Regions from separate parts of the Homo sapiens genome. Here region 2 is linked to region 1. The links come from fine-mapping of genetic effects on gene expression. A gene starts in region 1. The other region holds a variant in brackets. All regions are shown on one strand. Distances are between the middles of the regions. Region 1 holds the start of LINC01819 (long intergenic non-protein coding RNA 1819). Region 2 has its middle 34 kb from the start of ZFP36L2.

Region 1 (12,419 bases):
ACAGGGCTCCCCCAGATCCTGCCTTCCTCAGCCAACAACTGCCTTTTGTCCCAAATCAGTTCATCCCCCTTGACTGGGAGATGTCTTTGCTCTGCATCAGGAACAGCTCTTGCTTCTCTGCACGCTCACTCAGGGCTGTTGGCTTTGGGAGGTGGTCAGGGCTGGATTCCATCTCGGCCCAGGGACACCCCCGGGCCTGGAACAGAGCTGCTCTGGGAAAACACGGGTGGAGGGGGATAGGGAAGCTGTGCATTGCGGCCTCTGCAGACTCCACTCCTCCCTGAGAATGACAGTGGGTGGGGCTTTCCCTGCCTCAGGTAATTCAGCTTTTTATGAGCTGCAGGGAGACGCAAAGCAGGGATTTGGCCCAGGAAGAGAGGAAAGGCACTGAATGAGAGAACAGTCCTTCGCCAAGGACACAGGACTGTTGACGTGGGAGAGATGGGCGCAGCCTCTGGACCTGCGCCACGACGAGGAGGAAATGGTTTTCACTGAAAAACAAAGTTGAAAAACAGTTTACTGAAGGGAAGAGAAAGAGGAAAGGAAAAAAAAAAAAACCACCTCAAACTGTCTGATCATCAAAATCACCTGGGCAGCTTGTTAAAAATACAGATTCCAAAACTCATTCCAAGTCAATAAAATATTATTCTTGGTAGCTCTGGGCTTCTTTTCCTTGTGGTTAAAAAATGCAGGTTCCAACTCAGCCAGCTGGAAGACCCTTGGGCGAGTCGGTGTCTGGGTTGAGGGGAAGCAAGACCTATGGAGTCAACACAACAGATTATGTTTCTAGTTTTCTAGTTGGATTTGGGGGAGAAAGGAGGGAAGGAGACACAACAGGCTCAGGAAAAAACTCCTAAAAGCCACTTCCCTCCAGGCAGGACGGTCTTCCACTGGCTGAGCCTGTCCAATCCGTGTCTCCTTTCTCGGGCCAGTCTCCTGGTGAATCCTCACTCTCCCGTTTCCTCCTCTTCTCCCCTCCCACCATGGGGCCCTTGTCACCCGTGGAAGTCTGAGTGATGCCCCCACAGATGTTCATGTCTTTAGGCCCAGAATCTGTCCATGACACCTCGTATAGGGCTTTCACCTGTGATTAGATTAAGCCTCTTGAGACGGGGACATTATCCTGCGTGATCTGGGTGGACCTCATGGAATCACAAGGGTCCTTCTGAAAGGGATGTAGGAGTCAGGCAGAAGGTGACCTGATGGAGGAGCAGATTGGAGTGGTGCTCTTTGAAGATGGAGGAAGGAGCCACAAGCCGAGAAACTGAGCCAGAAAAGGCAAGAAAACAGATTCTTTTCTGGAGCCTCCAGAAGGAACCAGCCCGACTGACACCTTCACGTTAGCCCAGCGAGACTGATTTTGGGCTTCTGGCCTCCAGAACTGTAAGAGAATAATGTGTGTTGTTTAAGCCCCTCAGTTTGAAGTGGTTTGTTACCATGACAGCCGCAGGAATCAAATGCCCCCGACCTCTATCCTGTCCACTTTACCAGCCCGGCCCCTGCCAGGGTCTCCCGGGACCAAATGCTTGCCGGCCCTGGGCCCTCCTTAGAGCCTGTCTCTCTTGGCCTCCCATCAATATGTGATATTTTCTCCGTTGGTCGTTCTTAAATCTTGTGACAGCCCACTCCACTGGTGTTCCTCATGCCTTGATGCTCCTCCTTAGCCCCCTTCCAGCACTTTCCAGCCCCACCTCTTACCCCACCTTCAACATGGCCATGTGGCCCAGGGTCCTCTTCTGAACCCTCTTCTCACTCTCTGCTTTCTCTACTTCCCAGTGATAATCCCAGATCAAGGCCATGGGTCCACACCCTAATAACGATGGGTCCCTTATGCTCTTCTCAGCAAACAGGTATTAATATATTCCCTGCCTGTTGAAATCCAATTCACCTGTTCATCCCTCAATGCCCCACTCAAATGTCACCTCCTCCAGGAAGCCTCCCCTATCTGTCATGCCATATGCTTGTTAACAGTGTCCATCCGTCGACCCCATGGGATTGTGTGCCTAATTTATAAATTGAACTTAGAAGCTAGGATCTACAATATTTTGAGACATAGAGAGAAAAACTATGCTCACATAACTTTCATTGCAGCATATTGTTATAATTGATCTATTTTATTATTGTTGTTGTTCATCTCTTACTGTGCCGAATTTATAAAATCAACTTAGAAGCAGAGTCATGACCTAGTCAGCCCTGGACTCTCAGCACCCGGCACAGTGGAACCCAGCTCTGGGACATGCTCTCCCTCCTCACTGCCATAAACACCTGAGCAGGTGTTGGAGCTGTGGAAGCTGCCCTCTGCCATTCTGCTGCCTTCTGGCCTAGGCCAGGCTGTCACAGTGGGGTTCACTTCCCTTAAAGAATCATAAGAATAGATGTCAAGTTTCCATTCTGGCCACACTGGCCTCCTGACTCCTACTCCAACAGGCCATCCCCTGATGTCCCACCTGGGACATGAATCATTCCTCTCTCCAGCGTATCCATGCTGTGGCTGCCACCCACCTGCGTGTCCCTTAGGGGCCATCTGTCAAGGTATCATGGTGCTTGTGTTCAAGTAACCCTTGTTTTACCTTGTAATGGCCCCAAAGCACAAGAGTAGCAATGCTGGAAATTTGGATGTGCCAAAGAGAAGCCGTGAAGTGCTTCCTTTAAATTAAAAGGTGGAAGTTCTTGACTTAATAAGGAAAGAAAAAAAGTGTATATTGTGCCAAACAATGAGATACTATGCAGCCATTAAAAATTGTATTTTCAGGCTGGGCATTGTGGCTCACACCTGCAATCCCAGCAATTTGGGAGGTCAAGGTGGGCAGATCGCTGGAACTCAGGAGTTCAAGACCAGCATGGGCTACAGGGAGAAACCCCCGTCTCTACAGAAAACACAAAAATTAGCCATGCACGGTGGTGCACACCTGTGGTCCCAGCTACTTGTGGGGCTGAGGCTGGAGGATCACTTGACCCTGGGAGGTCGAGGTTGCAGTGAACCACGATTGCCCTGCTGCACGCCGGCCTGGGTGACAAAGTGAGAGACCCTGTCTCAAAAAATATACATAAATAAATCAAATAAAATTGTATTTTCAAAGACTATTTTAATGACCCAGGAAAATTCTTATGATATAATTTATATGGAAAAAAAAATCAAGATTTTAGATCTCAGATCTTAGCTCAGGTAGCTAGGATCTACAATATAACATTTTGAGACACATGGAGAAAGACCATACTCACATTACTTTTCTTGCAGCATATTGTTATAATTGATCTATTTTATTATTGTTGTTAATCTTTTACTGTGCCTAATTTATAAATTAAACTTTATCATAGGTATGTATGTATAGGAAAAAACATAGTGTATACAGGGTTCAATACTAACTACAATTTCAGACACCCACTGCGGGGCTTGGGCCATGTCCCCTGAAGATAAGAGGGGACTACGGTAACACAATTTATCAAAAACACATTGCTCCCAGACACCAAGAACTTTGCAGGGATTCACATCCTTTTACTTCATAATCCCACTTCTAGGACTTTATCCTAAAGAAATAATCAGAGGCTGGGCACGGTGGCTCACGCCTGTAATCCCAGCACTTTGGGAGGCTGAGGCGGGCAGATCACCTGAGGTCGGGAGTTCAAGACCACCCTGACCAACATGGAGAAACCCCGTCTCTACCAAAAATACAAAATTAGCTGGGTGTGGTGGCACATGCCTGTAATCCCAGCTACTCGAGAGGCTGAGGCAGGAGAATCACTTGAACCCAGGAGGCAGAGGTTGTGGTGAGCCGAGATCATGCCATTGCACTCCAGCCTGGGCAACAAGAGCGAAACTCCATCCCCCCCGCCCAAAAAAAAAGAGAGAAAGAAATAATCAGAGATGTATGCAAAGATGTATGTGTAAGAATGTTTATTAAATTATTATTTAAAATAATGAACAATTTTGAAACAGTTCACATGCCTAACACTAGGAAATTGGCTTAGTAACCACTGTACCGTACAATAGGATACTATGCAGCCATTTTACATCGTATTTTCAAAGAATATTTTAATGACCCAAGAAAATTCTTATGATGTAATTGATATGGAAAAAGATCAGGATTTTATATATACTATGTGTGTATGCACATGGTATTACCTCAGTTTCATTTAAATGTGTATGTGTATAGCAATAATGGTTATCTCCATTTAGTGTGATTATTATGGAGTATTTTCATTTTATTTCTTATACTTTTTCAGATTTTCCATATTTTTTACAATTAGCCTATATTTAGATTACAGTTTTTAATGCTATTAGTTTATTTTAATGGGGAAATAATTCATTGATTACTTGTCTGTTTTTCACTGAGGCAGGTGGAGTGGTGTGAAGGAAAGCTTGGGGCTGCCAAGCCAATGTATCTGCTCTTGGAGCCTGGGAGCTTCTTGGGTCCTGAGAGGCCTTTTATGTGTGTGAGGTGCCAGTTCTCTGAAATGAGTGCTGTGGCTTGGGGGTGCGCTGGAATATTTTTTATCAGGAGCCTGGACCAAGGGCTAGATCACTCTCCATATGTCATGGTGGGTCCTACCTGAAAGGGGAGGTCGTTTTCAAGATCAGGTACCTGAGGAAGAAGCGGGTCTTCAAAATAGAAGGTGAACCTGAAAAGAAGGTGATAAAAATTATGATGGGACAAAGGACTTGGTGGGGTCTCTGTCCCCTCATAAACCTCCACATAGGATGGACAGGAGTTGGGAGCCTCCAGAGGGTAACTGGTTAAGGTAGGACTAGGACACCCCTGCCTTGGGAAGCTGGATTGGGTTTACAGTTCTTCTGGGCACCATGTTTACGTCCTGTTGCCTTCCCTTCAGTGCCCTTATTAGTGCCATCTGGTCTGATCTTCCCAGGTTTCTTAGCTGTGCTTGTTAAAAGAAGCGAAAGACTGGGTTTCGGCCAGGTGTGGTGGCTCGCGCCTGTAATCCCAGCACTTTGGGAAGCCAAGATGGGCAGGTCACTTGAAGCCAGGAGTTCAAGACCAGCCTGGCCAACCCAGTAAAAATACAAAAAATTAGCCTGGTGTCGTGGCACATACCTGTAATCCCAGCTACTCAGGAGGCTGAAGCATAAGAATTGTTTGAACCTGGGAGGTGGAGATTGCAGTGAGCCGAGATCACGCCACTGTACTCCAGCCTGGGTGACAGAGTGAGACTCGGTCTCAAACAACCACCAAGGCTGGGTTTCTAGCTATGTTTGGCCCACAGAATTAAAAAAGTGGTGGCATCCCTGGGGCCCAGCCAGAAAGAAGCCGTGGGAATGAAGAAAAGTGACCCAAAGAGGAGAGTGCACAGAGGGAGGTGGAGTGAGGGCTGACTGAGCCAGCTGTCTCTCCTACCCAGGAATTCTTCCTGAGCTAAATCTCGGAGATTCTGGTTTGTAAAGTAATAGCTCTCCTTATATTTGTCTATTGTGTAAGTGCATGATTATGCTAAAAAAATTAAAAATTCAAATAAGGAAAACCAAAATAAAAACAAAGAAAAAGAAGCAATCTAAAATTACCCCTTAGCTCACCACTCGTCAATGTTTTATTGTATATCCTTCCAACGTTTTTCATAAATCAATGCTTTATTATTTATTTATTTATTTTTTTGAGACGGAGTTTCACTATTGCCCAGGCTGGAGTGCAATGGTGCAATCTCGGCTCACTGCAACCTCCGCCTCCCGGGTTCAAGCAACTATCCTGCCTTAGCCTCCTGAGTAGCTGGGATTACAGGCATGTGCCACCACGCCTGGCTAATTTTGTATTTTTCAGTAGAGATGAGGTTTCTCCATATTGGTCAGGCTGGTCTCGAATTCCCTACCTCAGGTGATCTGCCTGCCTCGGCCTCCGAAAGTACTGGGATTACAGGCATGAGCCACTGCGCCCAGCCCAATCAATGATTTAAAAATCAGATTATTTTATATACATCTCAGCTTTGTATTATTCTGTTCGTTATGCTATCTGCTTATTTCTATGTCATTAGATGCTCTTCTACATCATTTTTAAAGGCTCAATTGTGTTTTGTTTTCTGGATGTTTCACAATGTATTTAACCCATGCCCCATTTTTGGACATTTAGGTTGCTTCCGGTTTTTCAGGCTTAGAAGTCACAGTGAAGGACAACTTTGTGGCTAAATCTTTGAATGACCACCTATGTATATTCCCTGGAATAAGTCCCAGAAATAGACTCCCTGAAAGAAAGGACACTAGGGTTCGTTTCCATCCCTGGGCAGATCCCGAGGAAGGCTGGGTTGTTCTGGAGGTCTTGGCGCTGGGCCCTGCACTCCAAGCTTCAGGGCCTCCCAGACCCTTAGTGCACGTTCCACTACACTAAATCACCCCGCCCCTCCTCTCCCCACTCTGCCCCAGGCTTTGGACTCACCCAGGAGAATGAATTACACCTCCCAGCCGGACGTGAGGCCATTTGTCTTGTGCTCTGGAATCCTGATTAGATAAAATCTGAACAGAGCACATTTACTTATTTAGTGTATTTCTGGGTGGGTGGGTCCTAGCCCTTGGGGATCACCTTCTCCAGATCAGGGTGAAGAGTTTACAGAAGGGAGGAGCAGGTCACATATCCAGAGCAACCAGCTCAGGCATTCACCCTGCGGGGTCACAGGAACCCCACCGTCCCCAGCTCAGGCCCACTCCACTCCAGCTCCAATCTCCCCAGTCCTGCCTCCCCGCCTCCAGCTCAGGAAGCTTTAGGCGTTGGTTGCTCATCATATGGCTGAGGCTGGCAGAAAGAAGGACTAGGTGCCCAGTGATGTGGCCACATCGCACCTCTGGCGGGAAGTGGACTCTCTCCGACCCCCCTTGGGGGCTCTGGTGGCCTCTGCGGGACCTCGGGTTGTCTGAGCACACGCACCCTCGCCCTCTCTGGGACCTGATGCCTCGATTTAGGCTCAGACCCTGTAAATGCCCCTTGAGAGCCCTCAAGGATCCAGGGTTCTCTTGTCCTCAAAGAAGCAGAACATACCTGCTCACCAGCCTGCAGCTTGTCCTGTGTGTCCCGTCTCCTCAAGTACGGAGAGGCCAGGGCTTCCTGAATCTCATCAGATCCGAATCTCCCCAGATCTCATCAGGGCCTCTTCCCAGGAGACACCAACTCTCAAGGTCTGGAGACACACCTGGAACCTGTATTTTCCCAAATGGTCCTCCTGGCTCTTCCCACAGAACTGTCTTCTTGTCCCTGGTCTCCACTGATGGGGAACAAGGCATGTGACCCCCTGGGTCGGGCAGGCCCAAGGCAGGCGAGGCAGTGAGAAGCAGGCGAGGGGATAGGGCTGCTTGCTCAGGTAACTTGGGTTCAGGAGGTTTGGCAGCCGAGCTGCCTCTCCTGGCAGCGGGGCTTGGCCAAGGGCAATGTGCAGCCACACAAAGCCATCCTCACAAAGCCACCCTCACAGCCTCTCTGGCCGAGAGTCCCTGGGCGCTCACTTGCCGGGATGCACAGGCACGCCTCTGGCCAGGCCGGGCTGCGGGGGTTTGTGGCCTGGAGAATCAAAGAGCCGCCCTCAGCTCGGAGAACACTTCCTCTAGAAGGCTCTGGTAACAGCACACCGGGTCTGAGGAGAAAGAGCCTCTGTGGGCCACGGTGGGTCTTTGCCCACAGAGGCTCACACACCACCCCTCCTGTTCCAACACCACCCCCTGCCCGGCCCCAGTTCTCCTACCAGCCCAGGGGACTCAGGTGGGCCAGACCTTTTCACACTGCCCCTCCCACACACACCACAGCAAGAGGGTGAGCCTCCCTCTTTCTCTGCCGGGGTCTCTGGGGCCTCCCACGACGGGGGTGGGTGGTGCCATAAGCCCTGGGTGCCTGTGGGCGGTGGTCCCACGGATGCCCTGCTCAGTTCCAGACATAGTTGTTATTTGGACTTTTCACATCAAAGTAATTAATTAAATATGCAATAGAATACATTCTCTTCCTCAGTCAGTGGCAACCCCATCCCTTCATTCACTGAGGCCGAAACCTTGGATAGCCGTCCTGGAGTTTTTCAGACCCATGTCCAAACCACTGGAGCATCTTGTCAGCAGGATTCCAACTTCTTCCAGAGCCCACCCGCCTCTCACCACCTCTCTGTCATTTCCCACCTGGATGATTACAACAGTCCCTGTCGAGGCCCTGGCCCCACCACGCCACCAGTGGGGAGAATGCTTCCTCTAGAAGGCTCTGGTGGATTTGGGTGATGAGGGGGAGAGGGGTAGTCCCGGGCCAAGCCACACCAGTGACCCCACGTGTGTTCAGAACCCTCCTGTCTACATTTGATTTCATCTTGGCTACTCTTGTCAAGACATGCAGTTTGTTAGTCTTGAGCAAGTAAGAGTCCTTATTTGTATGCCCTCACATGTTATCACAAATCCCCCAGATTCTTTTTCAGATCTCATGCCCTAATTTGGGGTTTATGAAATCTACCATGCTGATAGGGATTCCTGTCTGTCATGGGGACTTTGAGCCATGACTCAGAACAAGACACTTATCAATCTGGGGCCTCTCCGAAGATGCTGAGACCAGGGCCAGTCTCAGCTGCAACGCCCTGCTTGGAAGCCACTATGGGATGATTCTGCAACAGATATCATGATGCAACAGATGCCCATGAATGACATGGGAAAGCTGGGCCCCATCGCCCAGGGGGACACTCCTGCTGTGCTCTGTCAGCAGGAGGGAGCCTCCTAGGAACTTCATCAGGACCCATTCTTTCTCTTTTTCTTTTCTTTTTTTTTTTTTTTTTTTGTGAGACGGAGTCTCACTCTGTCACCCAGGCTGGAGTGCAGTGGCTCAATCTTGGCTTACTGCAACGTCCGCCTCCTGGGTTCAAGCGATTCTTTTGACTCAGCCTCCTGAGTAGCTGGGATTACAGGCATGCACTGCCATGCCTGGCTAATTTTTGTATTTTTAGTAGAGACAAGGTTTCACCATGTCGGCCAGGCTGGTCTCAAACTCCTGACTTCAAGTTGTCCTCCCACCTTGGCCTCCCAAAGTGCTGGGATTACAGGCGTGAACCACTGCGCTTGGCCAGGACCCATCTTTGTGTGGGATCCCTGGCTCAGTGCTAGGACAGAAACAGGTTTTCCTTGGACTCTGTGGTGTGTGCTTGAGTGTATGTGGGTGAGTGTGTGTGTGATAACGCACCCTGCCCTGCCTTTCCCTCCCCACTCCTCCAACCTGGAGGTGACAGTCACAGGGCCCAGCCCCTCCCTGCCACCTTCCTGCCCCAGCCCCATCTCCATTCAGGGGCAAGTCCTGCTGTGGTGCTTAGAGTGCAGCTCTTTCAGGCTTTCCTTTCGCTTAGCCTTGATTTCCAGGCCACCATGATCAGACTGGGCTCCCAGGCAGCATCGGAGCATCCCCAAATCCAGGGCTGGGAGGAGCCAGGCCATCTTGTCCAAGTAAGGACTTGAAGTTCAGAGAGGAGAAGGCACCAAGCTTGTGTCACCCGCAGGTCCATGCAGAAGGGAGATTAGAACCCAGATCTGCTTTTCAGCCCAGGCCAGGCCTGCTACAAAAGGGCGGGAGGGGGCACCCAGGCTGAGGTGCTGGAATTAGCAGTTCTCTTTACCCTCAAATTAGCCCTGAGGCTGGCCCAAGCCCCTCCCTGCCAGCGTGCCCCTCTGTCTTCAGGAGCCCCCAGTGCCTGCCAGGGGCTTCTCCCCTTTTGCCAGCTTGCATCCATCCCCCACGGTTCCGTCTCTTGGCTGCTGCTTTTACAGGCTCCAAGCAGTGGGGAGGCTGATGGGGAGAGGGGGTCTGTGTTGGACTCAGCCAGACTTACTTCCAGCCAGTCCTCTTGCCCTCCCCTCCACAGACTGCCTAGAGACCAGGGAGCTCTCCCAACCCCACCCCTCGCCCCACTGCCACAGCTCTGACTCAGCCCATAAATTACCTAGGAATGGTCCGCTGACTCAGCCAGGAAGCCCAGAGCCCCCTTCCCCACCCTCAGGCCTCAACCCCACAGCTGGCTTTCATTCCAGAGTACTTGGCCCCCTCCCCTCAGGAAATTCCTGGAAAATATCAGGCTTCTTGGAGGGGAGATCTAACCACAGCCCCGGCAGGGAGCAAAGCCGCTGCAGCCTCATCCATCATTCTGCCCCTGCCCCTCCTCCAGCAGCTTGTGTGTTGCATGGGACTGAGCATGGAAGTGTCAGACCCCATAAAGTGATGGGTGCATGGCTCTGAGGGGAACTCCGGGGAGGGAGGAGAGAGGTGAGGCTGGCATGGGGTAGGGCAGTCAGGGCAGGCTGCTGGGAGGTGGAGGACTTTGTTTTGGGCCAGAAACGATGATAAAAACTGCTAAGTGCAGAAATGGAAAGCGTGCTTCAGGCCCAGGGGATGGCATAAGAAAAGGCTAGAGGTAGAAACCAACCGGTGTGTAGGGGGATGGGGAGGAAATTTGAGAATAAGCAGGGCTAGGCCAGTCGCGGTGGCTCATGCTTGTAATCCCAGCACTTTGGGAGGCCGAGGCAGGTGGATCACCTGAGGTCAGGAGTTCGAGACCAGCCTGGCCTACATGGCAAAACCCTGTCTCTTCTAAAAATACAAAAATTAGCCGGGCGTGGTGGCACACGCTTGTAATCCCAGCTGCTTGGGAGGCTGAGGCAGGAGAATTGCTTGAACCGGGGAAGCGGAGGTTGCAGTGAGCCGAGATTGTGCCACTGCACTCCAGCCTGGGTGACACAGCAAGACTCTGTCTAAAAACAAAACAAAACAAACAAACAAACAAAAAACAAAAACAGAATAAGGTCTAGAGGAGTGGCCGGACCGGAGAACCTGGGCTGATCAGGCCAGAGGGCCGGGGCCGGGGCCAGGCTGTGGAATTTGCAGGAAGTCTCCAAAGCAAAGGCCCAAGAGACTCTGGGAGACCTGGGAGCAAAGGAGAGCGTTTGGGGGCGGGGAGATGAATCTTGGACTAAAAGAACCTTGGCCAAGGAACACTGGTCCCTGCAACATCCTTGGACCACCTTGGGATCCCAGTGCCTGCTTCGACCTGAGGGGTGGGGCGGGGCATCTGATCATCACACTCCAGTCGGGGCAGAGGCAGGGCTCCGACTCTCAAGCAGCTCAGACTGAGGGACATGGCTGTGGCCTCAAAGAGCCCCCATTCTGAGGTGGGAACACAGCCCCTTCCTCAGGGAGCCCCCAGTTAAAGGGAGACACAGAACTCCCAGGCCCTTCCTGCCCCCCAGGCCTTAGTGTCCCCTCAAATCCGTTCCTCAGAAACCCCATTGGCTTTTGAGGGAAAGCCAAGTCCAATTCTCTGATAAAACTTTTCTTTTTTGGCTGCTTCCCCTCAGACAATACAAACTTATAAATGTACAAAAATTCCTGGCCAACCTCCCCCAGGAAGGATGGCTGGGTGATGGGCTGTGGCCTCAGTAATGGAGTCACCGAGAAGGGAAGCTGGCTGAGCAAAGGTACGGCCAGGGTAGGGGGGCTGTCCCTCCTGCCATCCATGGCAGAGGGGTGGACACCAAGCCAGGGTACTGTGGGGAAAGGTCTGCTGCGTCTCCAGCGTTTACCTACCCTTCCTGGGAACAGCAATTCTGCCATGGCCTGGCAGGAGTCAGGGAGGGGTGTGATGGATTCAGAGAGAAAGGTAGGGGCGCAGCCAGTCCGACGAAATGAAAGCAGAGAAAGAGGTGGAGAGGAGGAGGACACGGAGCAGAAACTCCTTGAAAGCAAGGTTTCCTCGTGGATTCTAGGCCCAGAAGCCAGGGAAGCTTCTTCATAAATGGGCGTCCCCAGGAAGGCCTCCTCATTCCCAGACTGGAGCTTTTGAGGCTCTAGTGTCTGTCAAAGCCCTCAAAACATTATATCGACATTCCCAGGTTACATGTGGGACCCCCCCTGACCTCATCCTGAGCCCCAGAGACAGAGCTGCCTTGGTCACTGGTGCATCCCAGCACCTGGTGTGTGTTGGGGGGTGGGGGGTCCTTCCCCCCCGCTGTCTGTCCCAGTGCAAAAAAGAAAGAGGGAAAGACTGGGCCACCGGAGGCCAGACAGGCCCAGCACGGATGTGGCCTCTGGGAAATGGCCCAGGGGCTTGCCCTCCTTCCCAGCTGGCTCTGGGAGCCTGAGCAGGGGCTGGCCCGCCCTCCCCTTTGTGACAGGGCAGGAGGGGGTTAGCCAGGTTACCTCTGTGGGCCCCAGCCCCTGAGGGGTGGTGGGTCTCTCAGCCAGGCTGGTCTGGGGAGCGGGGAGGGCATCCTGCCTCATTGTCACTGGCCCAGCGCATTTCCAGAAATTCTTCCCATCGGTAAGAAGAGGAAAGAGAGGCCAGGGCAGCCTCACAGGCCAAGTGGGAACCAGGTTTCCCGGAGCTCTCACGGCCCAGCCCGAGCTTGGGGCCTCCTGTCTGGGCCAAAGGGTCAGCTCAGCCCTGGGACGGGGATATGTCAGGAATAACTGGCCGGTGGACCCAGG
Region 2 (12,419 bases), 150 kb after region 1:
TGGGGAGGCTGGGAAGGGCTGGGTTTCCCCAGATCAAAGCAGCTTCCCCAGCCTTTGATTCCCCAACAAGCAGCCTCTTTGGACTCGGACTGGAGTTTGGGGCCCGCTGGTCTTAGGGCCTGGGGAAAGTGGTAAGAGGCTCTGGCCTGCTCTCTTTTTGCATAACAGCTTGGCTGCCTAACAAAAGGGCGGTCCTTAAAAGGCCTTATGGGGCTGTTAAAAGCTTCCGGCGATGGTTTAATTGGGGGCGATTAAAGTGTCCTCCCCAGGAAGGCCTGCCCTTCAAAGGCCAGCCAGGCCTGGCTCCCCTGCCCTCAGCACCTCTCCCCGCAGCCTCTCCCAGACTGGTGGCCCGGCCCTCAGCCTCTCCCCTCCCCAGCCTCAGCCACACCTAGGAGGTCCAGGGCCGGACCCTTTGGCCAGCCTGTCTGTAGGGATTCTGTCTCAGCCTGGACAGCAGCACCATCTGCTCACACAGTTTGTTCTCTTGGCTGAGTCTGGCACAAGAGGGAGGGAAGGCTGGGTTAGAGACACAAACAGCCTCAGAAATTGGGGACCCCTTGCAGCACTCTCTCCCCTCAGAACACCTCGACTGGCCTTTGGGCCCCTCCTTGAGCTCCAGGTTACCAGCCCTTCCCCAGGACCCCCACCTGTCTGGAACTTCGTGGTCACTGCTGGGCACCCCATCTCCCACCACACATGAATCTTCAGGCATGTGTGGTGGGAGATGCCTGGAAGTGTGCAATCTTCTGAGCACACTACCTGGAAGGTGTTGGAGATTCAGAGGTGACCAGACAGGGACACCTCCAGGGAGGAGGGGATAGTGGAGGTGTAAGTAGGTGAAAGTGACGGGGCGTGATGTGAGGTGGAAGGAGCCGTGGTGGGGGTGGGCCACAGAGGGCCAGGAAGGACTTTCTGGAAGCAACAGCGCCTACAGTTAGAATGTGACCAGCTTAACTGGGCCCATTTGCCAACCCTGATGTTAACAACAGGACCACATCCAGCTTTACTAACAGACTTTGTCCACACCACCAACTCTGGGCTCCTGGGAGGGAGGTGGGGTAGACGGCCCATCCAGTCTAGAATAGCCACTCTGGGGGCATCTAATTCTTTTTTTCCTTGAGACAGGGTCTCGCTCTGTCACCCACGCTGAAGCGCAGTGCTGCAAACACGGCTCATTGCAGCCTCCACTTCCTGGGCTCAAGCCATTCTTCTTCCTCAGCCTCCTGAGTAGCTAGGACTACAGGCACGCACCACACCTGGCTAATTTTTGTTTTTTTGTGTGTAGTGACAGGGTTTCACCATGTTGCCCAGGCTGGTCTCCAACTCCCGGGCTCAAGTGATCCACCCAAAGTATCGGGATTGCAGGTGTTAGCCACTGCGCCCAGCTGGCATCTGATTCATACATTTCCCCAGAGCCCACCTTCCCTCTCAGATATTATACATTCTTTTGTCTGAACCTTAGGAGCTGCTTTGGATGCAACTTGCCTGTCTCATCCCCTCAGGCCCATCACCCAAACAAAACTCAGAGCCTTCTCCCCTGGGGTGCTCTGTTTCCTGCATGAATCTTGCTCTCATCTCCCCGTCCGTGCCCATCCTAGATGGGGTGCCAGGGCCAAGGGTCTTTAGGATTTTCACCTCCTGTGTCAGCATCAAGGTAAGGAAAGCCCCCCCACCTTTTTTTTTTTTTTTTTGAGATGGAGTCTTGCTCTCGTTGCCCAGGCTGGAGTGCAATGGCATGATCTTGGCTCACTGTAACCTCCCGCCTCCCAGGTTCAAGCAATTCTCCGGCCTCAGCCTCCCGAGTAGCTGGGATTGCAGGCAGGCACCACCACACCTGGACAATTTTTGTATTTTTAGTAGAGACAGGGTTTCGCCATGTTGACCAGGTTGGTTGACCTTGAGCTCCTGACCTTGTGATCCGCCCACCTTGGCCTCCCAAAGTGCTGGGATTACAGGCCTGAGCCACTGCGCCGATCCAAGGCCATGATTTTTTACAGTGTAAGTGCTGGAGGAAAGCAAGCCCAAGGCAGGGGGCAAGGGGGCGTAGGCTGGAAGAACAGGCTGCAGAGGGACTCCCTTCTGAATGCCCTGGGGCGAGGTGTCCCCAGGTATCCCTCTGCCCTCCTGACAGCTTTCCTGTCCAGTCCCAGCAGCCTATTCTGAACCTGTCATCAAGCACTGAGCCCCCAGCCGCGGTGCCTCCCTCACGTGAGGCTCCTGTCTCCTGACGGCCTTCTGCCTGGGTTTCTCCCTCCAACAGGGCCTGCTCTTTGCTGCCAAGCTCAGCCTGAGCGATGCTGGGGCTCCCCTCACAAGCCTCCAAGCGTTCCCCCCTCCATGGCAGCTGGACATTGCAAACCCTCCCTGACCACTCCCCACCCCAATCATCACCCTCACTTCCATCCTCCAGGAAGGGCTGTGGCCTCACAAGCTCCTGGTGACCCCAGCCATGCTGTGTTCCTTCCTGCCCACACTCGCCCTGGCCCCTCTTCAGGGAAGTGGTACCTTCCCTTCCTCTGGATCTCTGTGGACTCTGCTGGTCCTTCAAGGGCCTGCTTATACGTCTCCTCCTCCAGGAAGCTTCCCTGAACATGCCAGTCAAGAACACATTCTCGGCCGTGCGGTGGTTCACACCTATAATCACAACGCTTTGGGAGGCTGAGGTGGGTGGATCACCTGAGGTCAGGAGTTCGAGACCAGCCTGGCCAACATGGTGAAACCCTGCCTCTACTAAAAATACAAAAATTAGCTGGACGTGGTGGTGGGCGCCTGTAATCCCAGCTACTCAGGAGGCTGGGGCAGGAGAATCACTTGAACCTGGGAGGTGGAGGTTGCAGTGAGCCGATACCTTGCCATTGCACTCCAGCCTGGTCAACAGAGAGAGACTCTGTCTCAAAAAAAAAAAAAAAAGTAGGCAGGTGTGGTGGCATGCACCTGTAGTCCCAGCTACTTGGGAGGCTGAGGCAAGAGAATCGCTGGAACCCAGGAGGTGGAGGTTGCAGTGAACCGAGATCGAGCCGCTGCACTCCACCCTGGGCGACAGGGCAAGACTCTATCTCAAAAAAAAAAAAAAAAAAAATTAAAAAACAAACAAAAAACCACATTATCTTTCAAATGGCTGTAGAACTTACTATGTGCTAGGCACCGCACTGAGCCCTGGGTCTCATCTAACCCCCACAGCAACCAGAAGCAGCAAATGTACTCTACTATCACCTCTTTGTTGTAGATAAGAAACAAAGGCAGCCAGGCGTGGTGGCTCACGCCTGTGGGAGCACTTTGGGAGGCCGAGGCGGGTGCATCACTTGAGGTCAGGAGTTCGAGACCAGCCTGGTCAACATAGTGAAACCCTGTCTGTACTAAAAATACAAAAATTAGCCAGGCTTGGAGGCATGTGCCTGTAATACCAGCTACTGGGGAGGCTGAGGCAGGAGAATCGTTTGAACCTGGGAGGTGGAGGTTGCAGTGAGCTGAGATCACGCCACTGCACTCCAGCCTGGGTGCAAGACTCTGTCTCAAGAAAAAAACAAAAAACAAACAAACAAACAAACAAAAAACCAAAAACTGAATGGCTGGCCTCAGCAAACCATTCTGAATTGCTCAGGACTGAAGGGTTTCCCAGGACAGGCTTTCCACTCTGAAACTGGGAAAGCCCCAGGCAACCCAGGGCAAGTCGGTCACCCTTCTGTTACCCGAGAGGCTGGCCTCTGCCTCCATCAGTTCCCTGAAACAGTGTCCAAAGGCCACCATCAACCTTCAGAGGCCTCTCCCTTCTCCTGCCCATGGGGTGGTGTAAGGCTGGGCAGTACCCAACTGCCCTTCAGGGATGCAGTGGGGCTGGATGAGGGGCAGGGCAGTGCCAGCCTGGAGCAATGCCACCCTCCAGCCCAGCCTCACTGGTCGCACCACCTCTCCCTAAGCTGGCTGCTGGGCTTGGGCCCTTTATCATCCCCTCACACTATCAGGCCGCTGAAGGAGTATCTCCTCCGCGCCCACCCCAGCTTCTGCCCTGACCCAGATAAGCTGAGGGGCCAGCCCAGGAGGAGAGAGGCAAAGCTGTAGCCTGGCTCTTCCCCAGCCCTGAACCTCCCTGCCTGGCCCTTGGGTGGAAAGCAGCAGAGACTCCTCTTGGGACTTCTACATCCCAAGATCAGACCGCCTCTCCAACCCCATGGGCAAGGACAGTGGGCAGGAATTCCTGTGCCCACTTGGCAGATGAAAAAATGGAGGCTGGGGGCCGGGCACCGTGGCTCACGCCTGTAATCCCAGCAGGTTGGGAGGCTGAGACGGGCAGATCATGAGGTCAGGAGATCGAGACCATCCTGGCTAACACGGTGAAACCCCATTTCTACTAAAAATACAAAAAAAAAAAAAAAAAATTAGCTGGGCGTGGTGGTGGGCGCCTGTAGTCCCAGCTACTCAGGAGGCTGAGGCAGGAGAATGCTGTGAACCTGGGAGGCAGAGCTTGCGGTGAGCGGAGATCGCGCCACTGCACTCCAGCCTGGGCGACAAAGCAAGACTGTCTCAAAAAAAAAAAAAAAAAAAGAAAAGAAAAAAAAGAAAAAATGGAGGCTGGGTAAGTGACCTGCCCAAGGTCACTGGGCCAGACCCATAGGAAGTCGGGGCTGGACGGGGCCTCAGCATGTCCCAGGGCTCTCTGATGGGGCTTTGTGGAGGATGTTTTCTGAATGAGTCCAGCTGGAGAGGCCAGCCTGCAGATGAGGCCTGTGCACTGCCCCTTCCACAGTCTCCGGCCAGCCTCCCAGCACCGCCTGAGCCCAGAGCCCTCGTGCCTCCTTCCTGCAGGGCTCTTGTCTCCCGACAGCCTTCTGCCTGGGTTTCTTCCTCCAACAGGGCCTGCTCTTTGCTGCCAAGCTCAGCCTGAGCAATCCTGGGGCTCCCCTCACAAGCCTCCAAGCGTTCCCCTCTCCAGGACAGCTGGACATTGCAAACCCTCCCTGACCACTCCCCACCCTGATCATCACCCTCACTTCCGTCCTCCAAGCAGGGGCTGTGGCCTCACAGGCTCCTGGTGACCCCAACTATGCCACGTTCTTTCCTGCCCACACTCGCCCTGGCCCCTCCGCAGGGAAGTGGTACCTTCCCTCCCTCTGGATCTCTGGGGATCCTGCTGGTCCTTCAGGGGCCTGCTTATATGTCTCCTCCTCCAGGAAGCTTCCCTAAAGATGGCAGTCAAAAACACATTCTCCTTCAAATGGCTGTAGCACTTACTATATGCCAGGCACTGTGCTGAGCCCTGGGTCTCATCTAACCCTCACAGCAACCACAAGCAGCAAATTCACTCCACTATTATCACCTCCAGGTTCTAGATTAAAAAACAGAGGCACAGAGAGGTCGGGTAACAGACCCAAGGTCACACAGCCAGAAACAGATCAAGGCAGGATTCAGGCTCTGGCAGTTTGGATCCATGGCATCCACTGGATTAGCAACTCCTTGGGGCAGGGACCATGGGTCAGGACTGGCTTCCTGTAGGAGAAGTCTTAGTATTTGCTTAGAAAGCTCAGAGCTGGACCCCTCCCCCAGACCTCCAGTCCTCAGAGTCCCCTGTAGGAGGCAGCACGGGGAAGGACAGAATTTTGTTTTTATTACCACTCAGCCCAGTTTCTCAAAAGTCACTGCCTGGGCTGAGCAAGGTGGCTCACCCCTGTAATCCCAGCACTTTTGGAGGCCAAGGCAGGCGGCTCACAAGGTCAGGAGTTCAAGACCAGCCTGGCCAATATGGTGAAACCCCATCTCTACTGAAAATACAAAAATTAGCTGGACATGGTGGCATGCATCTGTAGTCTCAGCTACTCCTACTTGGGAGTCTAAGGCAGGAGAATCGCTTGAACCTGAGAGGCAGAGGTTGCAGTAAGCTGAGATTGAGCCACTGCACTCCAGCCTGGGCAACAGAGTGAGACTCTGTCTCACAAAAAAAAAAGAAAAGAAAAAAAAAGTCACTGCTTGGCTTCTTTTTGGTTCTGGCAGGCTGGGCCCAGCCCAAGTGTGGCATGTGAGTGAACCACCCAGAGGAGGGCTGGGGGCTTGGCTCCTGGGGGCTCCAGTAGCTCCCTGCGACCTATCTCTGCCCCTCAAATCCTTCCATTCTAAAGGCCAGCTCCATGCCCACCTCCTCCAAGAAGCGCCAGCTGCTGCCCCCAGGCCAGCCTCCACCTGCTCCCACAGGCTGGGGAGTGGTCAGGGAGGGTTTGCAATGTCCAGCTGCCCTGTCTCCTGTCCCAGGCAGCGATGTGTCCAGGGCTCCATACCAGCTCCAAGCTCTCTGCCTACAGCTCCCTCACATCC[ACACT/A]CACTGGGTCCCAGCTGGAGACCTGGTGGCTTTGAGAGGATACCGTGGCTTCTTGATGTACCTGAAGACTTTGGAACGCCAGAAGTGTTCAGTCCTGTGATGGGTGTCAGCCAGGCCCAGAAAGCACACAAACTGGGGGACACATATGCTAAGTTATCCAGAAAGCCTCAGGGCTGGGGCTGGAAGAGGAGGGCCTTGCCATCCCAAGGTGCTGGTGTGTCCACACGCCCCTGGGGTGACCGTGTGCATCTGTGTGTGTGTGTTTGTGGGTGGGTGGCTGACTACTCTGAGTTTGTGGGTGATTCATGTGTACCCTCGCGACAGGCTGTGTTCAGATAGTCTGCTTATGTGCTTGAATTCAAGGACACAAACATCCCTAGGTGCAAGCTTGCACGCACAGTCCTCCCTACACCTCCACACGCAACTCCTAATCATCCCTCAGGATCCTCTCCCCGCCCTGCTTCAGCCTTAAGGCCTGCTCTGACCCTCCAGCCCATCCCACTGACCTGCTGACCTTCATCCCAGACACTGCTGGGTTCAGCCCTGGAGCCTGGTCACTCTTGCTCCCTGAGGGTGAGGTTGACTCCTTTTTAAATTACCCCTAAAGCCCCACTTAGGGAGACACAGCCTTATCAATCAACACTCCTTGAATGAATTAAAACAAACTCCAAGGAAAGGAACTGCATTTGGGTGGATGGAAACAAGAGCTCTCAAGCTGTTTTCTTTCCTCTTTACCCTTTGCTCTCTGTCTCTTCCCATCTGTACTTTCTCTAACTTGTTTGCTAACTCAATCGTCAGCTTAGAAAGTACTTCCTTGTATACCCTCCTCTCATTCAAATCTCATGACAATCCTCCAAGACACGAATAATTATCCTCATTGCACAGATGAGGAAACTGAGGTTCAGGGAGGCTACGTGAGTTGCCCAAGGTCACACAGCCTGGAAGGAGTGGGTAGGGACTAGAACCCTCATGCGTGAATGGACACCACCTCCCACCACTCCCCACCAGTAAGTAGAGGGTGGAGGGTAAAGGGCGATCCAGGGGCTCGGAGAGGATTGGCCTCTTCAAGCCCTCTCCATGGCCCAAGGTCACCGTGGGAGGGAGATGCACCTGGCCCCCAGGGCCAGGGGTTACCCCACTCGGCCAGCAATGGGAGAGGCCATGAGATCTGTGGACATTGTTCCTGGGCCTGTGGTTACTGATTTGACAACAGCCCTGTTCCTCCCCAGCCAGCCAGGGAGTTAATGATTAAGGAGGAGATTAAATATTAACCACCTGTGGGGCCACGGCGTAATGTCTCCATCTGCACCTGAGCCTACCTAAAAATCCCTCCCACCTGCCGTGGGCCAGCCCCACACAGGGCCTCTAAGCCCCTTGCTTAGGGATACCACTTCCCCATGCCCCCATCCTGCCCTGGCCCTGGCCCTGGCCCGTGTCCACCCCATCTCACTCTCTCATACCCACAGCACAGACCCAAGGACTCTTCCTGTAGCTTGGAAGCTGCAAGCTACACCACTGTAGGCACTCCTGGTGGGCCTTCTGGAGGAGAGGACCTGCCTGAACCCAGCTACTCCTGGGGCTTGGAGAGTCCGCAGGTTACATTCCTACCTGTGACCTCGTTTATCAGTGCTCTTATCGCTCTTATCTCCCAAGTCGTTCCTCCTAAAGACCCCTCTGAATCTACACATCCCAGGCCCCAACACCCTGGGCTACAGCAACTCCCCAACACGCCATTCTCTTCTTTCTTCTAGCAGTTAGAATCTGGGTGTGTTCTGCCTCCAGGAAGCCTCTCATATTAACCTGGGCTAAGGTCTCTGCGGGCCTCTGCTCCCCAGCTTCCCTTAGGCCGGGGTGATTCAGGCTGGCATTGGCTGCTGCACGGCTGCAGGAAACCAGCTGCATCTGTTGGAAGGTCCTTTGAAGTTTAAGTGCACAGCCTCCGAGCGCTGGGGGCGGGGACTGCTCTATCTCACCTAAGCCTAGGGCCTGCCCCTGGGTGAAGCCATGGTCACCCTCCCCACAGCAGGAACCACAGGCAGTATGACACAGGGTTCACCTGCGTCTTTTTCTATAAATATAGAAAAATGGAATTATTTATTCAAATAATAACTCTATTGATATGCTCTCATTCCTGTTTGTGGGGAAGCCCCAGATGACTGTGTGGGTAAGTTACTATGGTACGTAAGCCCCACCGTAGCCTGGGCCTGCACTGCTCTCTCTGCATGTCAGTGAACTGCATTGACACTGCAGGCCTAGTGACAGGCAATGTCATCCCCATTTTACAGATGGCGAAACTGAGGCTGGGTGAAATTAAAGGACTTGGCCACGCTCAAACAGACAGGAAATGGCAGAAGCTGGCCTGCCTGGTGCAAAAGCCATACAAAACTGAAAAGGACCTAACACCGTTCTTGCCACAGCTGTCTAGGCCCCAAGCTCAGCTTCTTTTCAGCCACAGTTCCCAACCATGTGTGGCTTGCTTGCTTTTCTTTCTTTCTTTCTTTCTTTCTTTCTTTCTTTCTTTCTTTCTTTCTTTCTTTCTTTCTTTCTTTCTTTCTTTCCTTCCTTCCTTCCTTCCTTCCTTCCTTCCTTCCTTCCTTCCTTCCTTCCTTCCTTCTTTCTTTCTTTCTTTCTTTCTTTCTCTCTTTCGAGATGGAGTCTCACTCTGTCACCCTCTGCCTCTCGGGTTCAAGCCATTCTCCTCCTGGGTTCAAGCCGTTCTCCTGCCTCAGCCTCCCGTGTAGCTGGGATTACAGGCACACACCACCACTCCTGGCTAATTTTTGTATTTTTAGTAGAGACGGGGTTTCACCATGTTGGCCAGACTGGTCTCAAACTCCTGACTTCACTCAAGTGATCCACCCTCCTCAGGCTTCCAAAGTGCTGGGATTACCGGTGTGAGGCACCGCGCCCGGCCTTTTTGTTTGTTTTTTTAAGACATGGTTTTGCTTTGTCACCCAGGCTGGAGTGCAGTGGTGCGATCATAACTCACTGCAGCCTTGACCTCCTGGGCTCAAGTGGTCTTCCTGCCTCAGCCTCCGAAATAGCTGGGACCACAGGTGTGCACCACCATGCCTGACTAATTTAAAAAAATTTTTTTAAATCTCAGCACTTTGGGAGGCCGAGGTGGGTGGATCACGAGGTCAGGAGATCGAGACCATCCTGGCTAATGTGGTGAAACCCTGTCTCTACTAAAAATACAAAAAATTAGCGGGGCGTGGTGGCGGGCGCCTGTAGTCCCAGCTACTCTGGAGGCTGAGGCAGGAGAATGGCGTGAACCCAGGAGGCGGTGCTTGCAGTGAGCCGAGATCACACCACTGCACTCCAGCCTGGGCAATAGAGCCAGACTCCATCTCAAAAAAAAAAAAAAAAATTATTTTTGTAGACTTGGGGATCTCATTATATTGCCCAGGCTGGTCTCAAACTCTTGGGTTCAAGCGATCCTCCCTCCTCAGCCTCCCAAAGTGCTGGGATTACAGGCGTGTGCCACTGCGCCTGGCCCCTTTCTCCTTTCAACTTTCTCTCACCTGTATTGATACCTGAACACTTAACAACCGCTTATGGCCTCCATTATGTGGGAGAGATGACTTTAGCTCTTCCAAGTAAGGGTGCCCCTGATCTCCTCAGAACCGAGGATATGACCCAAGGAGACTCCACGTGGAGACCCACTGGCTCTAGATGGGGATTTCTCTCTCCCTCCTAAAATGGGGCTCATTCCTTTAAGATGTTTTACTAAGTTTTTTGCAGAGACGTCTAGAAGGACCTGCCATTTTCCTTCTTCCTGCATGTTACAAATCATCTTACCAGTGCAGGATGGTGTAGAATCAGCATTGCACTGCGGTTTCCTCACACCAGCGCTTGTGTCTACAGATGAGGAAAGAAAGGCCCCCGAAGGTCAAGAGCCTCGCTGGCCCAGTGGCTCCCACACGAGTTCCTCAGGGCAGCAGCAACACTAAGGAAGGGGATGGCCTCTGACTGGCACTGATGGGGCTTCCAGACCCATACCTCAGGGGCTCAGAGGTTTCCTCTGGGGCCCCAGCCCCTTGTCTTAGACTCAGAGCTGAACCCCCAGTACATCCTTGAGAACCTCAACCTGCTCCCCTTTGCCCCTCACCTCCTCCCTGGACCACTGCTCCCCACAGTCCAGCTCCCCCATCCTTGACAGTGAGCCCAGGGTTTGTCAGGGGATAGTGGGGAGTCCGGGAAACATATAATACGAGCTTCTCAGCCATAAGCAGTGTTCCCATATCCCAGCACAGCACACACACTTTGAGCCAGGTTTCCCGCCCAGCCTGCCACGCTGTCTTTTGCCCTGTGTTTCTGTCTGTCTCTCTTTCTCTCCCACACGCACTCTCACTCATTCACACAAACTCACAAATTTTGATGACTCAGGCAAAGCAGAGAGGAGGGAAGCAACACTTAAAGCCGAAATTGGCTTTAACTGGGGATGCTCACATTTCTATTTACATCTCTTTTGCATGTATTTGCATAGACTGTTTTTGGACCATTCTCCATGTCCCTAAGGGCACTGAGAAGTAACGGATTTGTGGTCCTCAGGGGGCCCCAAGGCCTCCGTGAGGCCTCCAGATGCGTTAGGTGGGCCCTGGAATGCAGGGAGAATAGGGAGGCGACAGGTCATCTGGTTACATTACAGGGGCAGGCTAGAGGAAATAGGGTAGCTGGGGCCTGGAGGAACCTTGTGGGCCTTGGCTGCCTTCTTTTTTTTTTTTTTTGAGATGAACTTTCACCGTTGTTGCCCAGGCTGGAGTGGAATGGCACCATCTCAGCTCACTGCAACCTCCGCCTCCTGGGTTCAAGTGATTATCCTGCTTCAGCCTCCCAAGTAGCTGGGATTACAGGCGCCCGCCATCATGCCCAGCTAATTTTTTGTATTTTTAGTAGAGATGGGGTTTCATTATGTTGGTCAGGCTGGTCTCGAACTCCTGACCTCAGGTGATCCACCCGCCTCAGCCTCCCAAAGTGCTGGGATTACAGGCGGGAGTCACCGCGTCCGGCCTTTGGCTATCTTCTTGTCACAGGGTCCCCCACTCAGTGCCCCTGAAGGCCAGGCTGGCAGTGGGGTAGGGGGTGGGGCAGGAATTTTCCAAAAGTCCAGATGCCTAGTGAGGCTCCGCTCCTGGGCCAAGTATGGAAGGCAGCAGAGAAGCAAGAGGATGGACCCCAAGTGAGAGGGACACAGGAAACCCTGAGGCAGGGCCAGAGGAGAAGAGCACCCAGGAAAGGAAAGTGCCGGCTCAGAGGTGCTGGGAGGGTGGGTCCTACTCCTTAGGTGAACACAGACACCAGAGGCCCAGCACCAGCTGCCCTCCTACCCTGCACATCAGCTCTCAACTTAATTCGCCGCACAACCTGAGACAAGATTCTAGGCAGCCAGGGCTCTGGCCCAGCTCTGCACCCTTTGCCGGGTGACCTTGGGCGGGTCTTGGTCCCTCTCTGGGCCTCAGTCTCCTCTTCAGGAAAGGGCAAGCAGATGAGTTTCGAAGGCCCTCCCAGGTCTAATGTCTCTGCTGCCCTGACCCAGCCTCCCTGGCCCACTTCCCTGTGGCTCAGGAATCTTCAGTGTCTACCTCTAGGATCAGGGTCAAGTTTGAGTGTTCAGGACCCTCTGCATCTGGTGCCATCCAGCCTCATCAGCCTCACTTCCCTTGTTTTCTGGGGGTCCAGCAGGGACCTTGGGTCCTTGCTCCAACCTCCTTTCCTTTCCCCACCAAGGGCCCTGATTCTGGAACACCTGCCCTCTCCTGCAGGGCTGGCTTCATGAACAGTGACCTATGCAGCCCCATGGTTGGTTTAATGCTCTGTTAATGTCATCCTGGAATTTAAAAATTTTGAGCAAGGGCAAGGGGCCCTGACTTTCTTTTTTTCTTTTCTTTTCCTTTTTTTTTTTTTTTTTTTTTGAGACAGAGTCTCGATCCCTTGCCCAGGCTGGAGTGCAGTGGCGCGGTATTGGCTCACTGCAACCTCAGCCTCCCGGGTTCAAGCAATTCTCGTGCCTCAGTCTCCCAAGTAGCTGGGACTATAGGTGTATGCCACCATGCCTGGCTAATTTTTGTATTTTTGGTAGAGATGGGTTTTCACCATGTTGGCCAAG

The links.
Region 2: its variant is fine-mapped to the expression of LINC01819 in whole blood (TOPMed, PIP 0.97).

The regions. Positions count from the first base shown.
Region 1 is chr2:43,032,146-43,044,564 of GRCh38, forward strand. It overlaps LINC01819 (long intergenic non-protein coding RNA 1819), which reads right to left and starts at 7,398. Exons shown (of 6, transcript NR_110585.1): 1 at 6,975-7,398; 2 at 4,551-4,620; 3 at 2,910-3,007. RefSeq lists enhancers at 8,858-9,800, 9,801-10,742, 9,805-10,099, 10,743-11,684.
Region 2 is chr2:43,186,793-43,199,211 of GRCh38, forward strand. No RefSeq gene overlaps it. Among named protein-coding and RNA genes, the nearest start is that of ZFP36L2, 34 kb to the right of the region's middle. RefSeq lists enhancers at 18-751, 752-1,485, 7,218-8,137, a silencer at 501-671 and a cis regulatory region at 3,663-4,261. The variant ACACT/A (reference allele first, on the strand shown) is at 6,307.